2 linked regions of the Homo sapiens genome follow. The protein of the gene in region 2 purifies or fractionates together with the protein of the main gene of each other region. This does not show direct contact. Each region holds a gene or a part of one and is shown on either strand. Other genes may lie near its edges.

What was found. Proteins that work in one complex are often made in the same cells at the same time.
Region 1: the proteins of ZNF316 (region 2) and MACROH2A2 purify together in Homo sapiens (co-immunoprecipitation; one large-scale study listed by IntAct). This does not show direct contact.

Annotation. Positions count from the first base shown.
Region 1 is NC_000010.11:70,073,346-70,076,845, forward strand, and holds part of MACROH2A2 (core histone macro-H2A.2), read left to right. Parts: intron 1-2,254; 5' UTR 2,255-2,313; coding exon 2,314-2,485; intron 2,486-3,500. UniProt on the Homo sapiens protein: Variant histone H2A which replaces conventional H2A in a subset of nucleosomes where it represses transcription. Nucleosomes wrap and compact DNA into chromatin, limiting DNA accessibility to the cellular machineries which require DNA as a template.
Region 2 is NC_000007.14:6,647,318-6,650,817, reverse strand, and holds part of ZNF316 (zinc finger protein 316), read right to left. Parts: intron 1-3,500. UniProt on the Homo sapiens protein: May be involved in transcriptional regulation.

The DNA of each region.
Region 1 (3,500 bases), on a different chromosome or scaffold from region 2:
CAGACAGCAGCAGCACGGCAAAGGTGGGAGATCTTGTTTCTTCCAGATGAAGAAACAACGTGATAAAACAACATGGCAACATTGCCTGATCTCTGGGCCTTGCAGTCAAAGAGATAATAGTCTAAGGCACTTCTCTCATCTTTGCTTGTACCTAACTGATGAATAGCTACATCCTTTGGTGGCAAAACGACATATGAAGTATAAAATAGGGGAGTAGTAAGTACATATGAGCATTTTAAATAATGTATATGAAGTATATACTAAAATGCCCCAAACTTGAATCATTCACCTCGGGGACAGGTGAGAGTTGAGAAAGGGCTTTGTTGCTAATTTCAGAGCTTTTAATATAGTCTCCTTGGTCGTAATGGAGTTATCAGATGCTTTAGAAAATTGAAATCTGTTCACTCTTTCACCTAGATTAAGTAAATCCTGGTTTTGTATCTATTTCATATTAACCAAGCATTCATTTAATATCTTCTTCTGTCATATTTAGGGACTTTCTTGGGCCCTCCTTTCCTTTGCCATCTTGCCTGTTGGTATGATGACCTAACCAGGATCAATGGATAGAACCAATTTCAATTTGTTCTGACTTTCTCATTTTTCATCTCCAGAGGAAACGGCCCCTGAGAACGCCATTGACCTTGGGGAAGAGAGCTTTGATATATTAACACATTTCCTAGAAAATGTCATTTTCCTTTTCTTTGCTCCTGACCGTTTGTCCCTTGTAATTTGCTTTTACTTACTGAAGATTATATTCCATTTGTCGGTTACGGTACCCTGTCAACCAGCAGACCAAGCCTACCCAAGATCTACTACAATTTTCTAGATTGTGGGTGGGCTTACAAAGACTCTGTCCAGGAATATGTGATTATTTTGTCTTCACACAAAAGATAGCTTCCTTAAGCAACAGTGAATGTTTCTCTCTTAGTTCCTGGTGCTGAATTCACCTCTTTGTGCTGACTGTGAAGTTTCTCCCAAAATCAACCTGGATTCCTCATTCCAAGGAACAGACGCTCAGGCTGCATTATGGCTTTTCATTTGCTATGTTTGCATACCACACATATTCAGTAAAACTGCCTCTTCTGGCCTGTTTCCATTTCTGAGTGCTACATTATTGCAGGATTTAGAAAAGTGTCTAAAAAATACACATCAGCTCTCAGTTATGTCTGTCAAACCTAACGGATGGTTTGGCTGTGTCCCCACCCAAATCTCATCTTGAATTATAGCTCCCATAATTCCCACATGTTGTGGGAGGGACCTGGTGGGAGATAATTGAATCATGGGGGTGGTTTCCCCCATACCATTCTCGTGGTAGTGAATAAGTCTCACGAGATCTGATGGGTTTATAAGAGGAAACCCCTTTCGCTTGGTTCTCATTCTCTCTTGTCTACTGCCATATAAGACGTGCCTTTCACCTTCCACTATGATTGTGAGGCCTCCCCAGCCACGTGGAACTGTGAGTGCATTAAACCTCTGTTTCTTTATAAATTACCCAGTCTTGGATACATCTTTATTAGCAGTGTGAGAACAGACTAATACACTAACCATTATAATGGGCAAAGTCATATAAGCCAAGAGGAATTGTATTAGTTTTCTTATTGTTGCTGGAACAAATTACCCCAAACTTAGTGTTTAAAACAATACAAATTTATTTTCTTATAGTTCAGGGGTCAGAAGTCCAAAATTAGCCTTACTGGGCTAAAGTCAAGGTATCAGCAGGACTAATTCCTTCTGATGGCTTTGAGGGGAAAATCCTTTTCCTTCTGTTCTCACATCTCTTACTGCCCACTCTGACCCCCTGCCTCCGTCTTCTAAGGCAATTATGTTAGCCCCATCCAGATAATCCAAGATAAACCTCCCCATCTCAAGACCCTTAGCTTAATCCCATCTGCAAAGTCTCTGTCATATAAGATAACAGTCACAGGTTCTGGGGATGAGGAAATTGACATCTTTGGGGATCATTGTTCAGCTGACCACAGGACCGAGACCTCCCTATTCAGTGACAGTTTTCTGTGGCCTTTCCTCTTGAGGTCAGGCTGCTTTGGTGGGGGAGGGATGTTTGTGGGTGGGCTTGCCCATGCCCTTCAGAGACCCCATGCCTGACTCCGTGCCTCCTGCACCTGCAGTAGCAGCCAGATTTCAGCTGCCTCCCCAGGGCAGTCAGAGGTGTCACAGTGGTGCCCAAGGGCCATGCCACTGTGCCCAAGATGTTTGCCAACTACCCTTCCTCAACTCTGTCTTCTTTCCTTTTTAGCATTGTGTTAGTGCCGGGAGGCCACTGTGTCAGCAAGCTGAGAGGGAAACTGAAGCAAGATGTCGGGCCGGAGTGGGAAGAAGAAAATGTCCAAGCTGTCCCGTTCAGCTAGGGCAGGTGTCATCTTTCCAGTGGGGAGGCTGATGCGTTATCTGAAGAAAGGGACGTTCAAGTACCGGATCAGCGTGGGCGCCCCTGTCTACATGGCGGCAGTCATTGAGTACCTGGCAGGTAATGAGGACACGCAAAGGAGGCTGCCTGCTCCCAGGTCCCCACCCTCCCCTGGGTCCCCCTCGCAGGCTGGGGAGGGATGCTCCAAATTGCCTTTTGGCTGGCTCAAGGCTACTGTGGGTGGTGACAGGGTTGCAACTGGCCTGCTTGGCTAAAATCAACTTCTGCAGACTTTAGGGGAGAGAAGAGGGTATAGGAAGGACAGGTGATCAGCATGGAAGGCGGAGAACCCACAATCAAGTAAGTGGCCCTCCTAGACCAGTCCTGCAAAAGATATGTCTTGCTTTAAGCGAATGCAATATATAAATATCTAAGCTCCTGAAGAAAATAAACTGCAGGGAGAATGGGGGATTTGATATTCATTTTGTAAAAGGGAGTCTTTTTACATCAAATTGCTCATTAAACATTAGTTTTCCTGGTATATTTAAACTGGGACTCAGGGTCCATAAATAACATTTATCGCATCATTAAAAGCATCTTTCAGGTGCTGGCATGAAGCCGATGTAATGTTCTAATTTTGCTCTCCTTCACTGAGGTGATTCTCGTCTAATAGGGGTGCACAGAAAATAGTTTCCCATATTTGTTGTTAAAGTTAATTTTTTTACTGAAAGATGAGATTTTGCTGTGTGTGTTCTTTATCTTAGTAACTTTCTCTTTAGCTTTTTTGTTGTTGTTCTCTTATGTCATAGTTAAATAGAAACCAAACTTTACAATATCAGGGGTGCTTTTCAGAAGTATTTACAAATAAAATATATAAATATATATGTACAATAAGTATGATTTAGTCCCTTGTTGGGTAATAGCCACGAGCAACAATGTCTCTGACTTTGCCCAAGGTTAACAAATTCCCTAGACACCAAGGTTAAGTTCCTTGGAAATTCTGCCAGGTTAAAAAGCAAACCTCCCCAGATGGTCTAACACTGGGGAGGCAAGCCTCACTGCATGAAATCCTCTGGGCTGTGGCAGGGCTGGTCCTCTCTTCTGTCCCCAGATTCCTCTTTTCTGCTGGTTTTTC
Region 2 (3,500 bases):
CCAGATGCTCTAAGGCACCTTCATGGACCCTCCTGGTGTCTGCCCGACAGTCTCAGCATCTGGAAGGTTCCAGCTCCCACAGCTGGTGTGGAAATCTCCTCCTCACCCCACCTGGGTCCCCTGCCCATTTCAGCCGTCACCTAGCTGGATAAGCCTGGACCACTGAGTGCTGCCCTAGAGGGAAAGTCGGAGCCCAGGAGGTCCCAGTAGGCCTCGGGTAGCCCCTCATGTCGCACGCTGGCCCCTGCCAGGCTGCATGCCCTTGGCACTGCCTCGTCCCACATACATTCCATATGGGGACCTAGAGCCGCAGGAAAACACAGACCCACACAGGCCCGGCTTCACTGTGAAAAAACAGGCATCATAGAAAAGGGTCAGAAAACGGGTTACTGCATCTTTCACATTTCATGATACTTTATCGGTTTACTATCATAGTAAACGTAAGCTTGAAATAAAAAGGTTTCTTGTCACTAAGTTGAGTCTACCTCGAACTGCCACCCACAGCCACTCCGTGCACAGAGCAGCAAAGAAAAGCCCCGTCCCCATCAGTGGCCACCCTTCCCCGACTGGCAGCCACACTCCCCAGGTCTGGGAAGGCTGCTGCACCCCAGCCCTATACCCCAACCCTACAGGATAGGGAGGCTGGCAGAGAGCTCGAAAGGATCTCACCCTGAGGCTCTGATGCAGGTCTTGGGTTTAGAGACCCCTCCAAACGGGGAAGGTTCAAGCCTAGGAACAACTATGATTTTGTAGCGGGGTGCATCGGTACCTCAGGAAACAGCCAAGACTCAGCGAGCATTTACTGGATAATAAGCCTCAAAGAACTGGACTCCCAGGCCAAGGGCGGCCTTGCCCACAGAAGTCTCAGCTGCCCAGAGCTGGGAGGCTCCTCCCATCACCTCTCCCTTGATCCTGATCGCAGCAGGGAATCCTCTCACTTGGGGAGGTAGGCAGGGAGCCCCCATCCCAGTGGGATCTGTAGAGAGGGCACCCCCCGCCAGCTCTGGAGCTGGCATGGCCACTTGTCCAACAACTGGGACAAGGGTGGGCCACACTCCAGCATATGGCATGGTGACAGGCCACCATTGACACCGAGTGCAGGAGGGGAAGGACATCCAAGTCCCTGGGGAGTCTGAGCGGGCTGCACTCTAAGGGGAGCTCCCAGGAAGTAGCAGGGCCCCTGGGAAGGGTCCCAGAGGGAGACCAGCCTGCCCCAGGCCAGGCTCTGTCGAAGTCCACGGGAACATCCTTGAGTGAGGGTGTTCAGCCAACAGGGCTCCAGGGACAAGGCCCCGAGGGCGTTTGCTGGCTCTCAGATCCAAAGCCGTTTTCCAGATCTAAGTCAGGCCTCATCACAGCTCAACTCATCAGACCCAAGCCGGGGCAACAGGAGGCTGACTAGGAGGGGCTGGTGCATGTTTCTCAACAGCTGGAGGGCACTGGGGCAGGAACCATGCGACAGCAGCCCAGGGTACCCAACACACCTGCTTCCTCCAGAACCCAGGGGACAGCAGAGGAGAGGAGACCCTGGGACTGACGGTCCCTCTCCCCTGCACCTCACGTTTAGGCCTAAGGACTCTGACCTAGCAACATGCAGCTAGGCTTCCGGAAGAGGGACCACAAGGGCTCAGTGATAAAAAGGAGAGGCCGATCAGAGGCTCAAAGTCAGCTCTGTCTAGGGAGGGAGAAGCTTCCAGAGTATGGCCACAAGAACCTTCACGGCCCATGTCCTGAACTGGGAACACTAAGACCCCCCCCATCCAGCGGCAGGTGACAGGAGCTGATGGAGAGGGAGACCACCCCAGCAGGCTGGGTGCAAGGGAATGAATGAAAGGCTCAGGGCTGGGGCTGGGGCTGTCACAGGAACGATCCCCCCACCTCCCTCCACAGGCATCAGCACCAGGCACAGCTGCTCCCTAGCATGAGTGGCGTCTTTAGAGGCTTCCCCTTTGAACCTTAATGCTGAGATGTCCCTCAAGGCTCACTACTCCCCTGTGCCCGCAGCAACCCTCCTGCAGGCTGAAGCCCCACATCTGCTCAGTTCCGCCAGGACGGCAGGGGCCAGGCCGGGATGCTACACCTTCTCTCCCTTGGCTTCACCTCAAAAGGCAGCTGGGGGGCCCGGGCTCTGTCTGGGTGTGAATTCCACTCCTATGACGCACTGGCCATAGGACCTTGGGCAAGGCCTTAAATCTGAGTTTTCCCATCTGTAAAATGGGTTGATAACAGCACCTGCAATCCACTTGGTGGGACTGCTGCCAGGATGAAATGCACATCCGTAAACACCTGCGATGCGGCTGCAGAAGCACCTCCACTGCTCCCCGGGTCAGGTGGCGCTGCTGCCACCACAGTTCCCTGCAGATGCCAAGGCCCCCTGCTGTCCATCCCATGCTTTCTGTTGGTCACCGCTCAAGTTGTCCCCCAAATGTCAGGCGATGCTCCTTTCCTGCCATCAGGTCCTGGTGGCCACAGATCCCCACCAAGGCCTTTCCTCTTGAGGCTGGGCCACAGTCCCTAATCCTAGATAGGCCCCTGGCCAGCCCTGTGCCCCGGGGGCAGGCTGCCTCCTGGACTGGACAGGAGGGGCGGGGCACCCTCCAGCCCACACTAGTGCCCTCCTGCTCACCAGTGGCTGGTGCAGTGCCAAGGCCCTCAGGCCCTGGAGGCACAAAGGTCCCTACACCTGGGAGGGTGCTCGTCGGCATCACCAAAGCCGGGCATTTACCCAGAATCCCACCAACACAACTGCAGGCTCTCCAGCTTCTGTCCCCAGGCCCTGGTTTAACTGTGTGGGAGGCAGTGGTGATCCCAGGGGCCAACCAATGTCCCCAGCAGCACAGCCCCCAGAACAGTCTGGTAAGTGCCCTGCCCTGGGCACAGCGTGGGGGCCCTATGTAGGACACTAATCACAGCGGCTGTGGGGAAGACAGTGGCCCCACAGCCACATGCCTGACCCAGAAGACACGGTCCCAACCTGCCACGGGACCCCACACACATCTCACATCACTGAGGGATGCTGCTCGGTGTAGCCCACACACACCACCCATGGCACCAGGCCGCCACCATCTACGACTCCCACTCCTGGGCAACCTCTGCCCATCTCGGAGTCTGGAACCTGCTCTCCAGGCCCAACCTGACCTGGGCCCCACGGCGAGTCCACGGAGTTGGCTGACTGAACAGCGCCACTTCTCTCCCTCTGACAACCCATCCACTGGGGCCTGGCCTGGAGCGCAGGCTGTGGAAGTCAGTTCCGAGTGAAGCCAACACCTGCTCCCTCCCCTCACCCGGCCAGTGCAACTTTCTCCATTCAGACACAAACTCCAGATGGCCTTAGGGAGATCTTCTCTCACGGGGGACAGTCGCAAAGGAGGTGGAGGACAAGGGTGACACGCCCAAGTCCATAGGCATTAGCAGCACTCTCTTCTGCAAACTGTCAGGGGGATGAGGGTGGCACTGGCCCCACACATTGGTGCTTGGGGGAGGCGGGGCTCTCGGGCGCA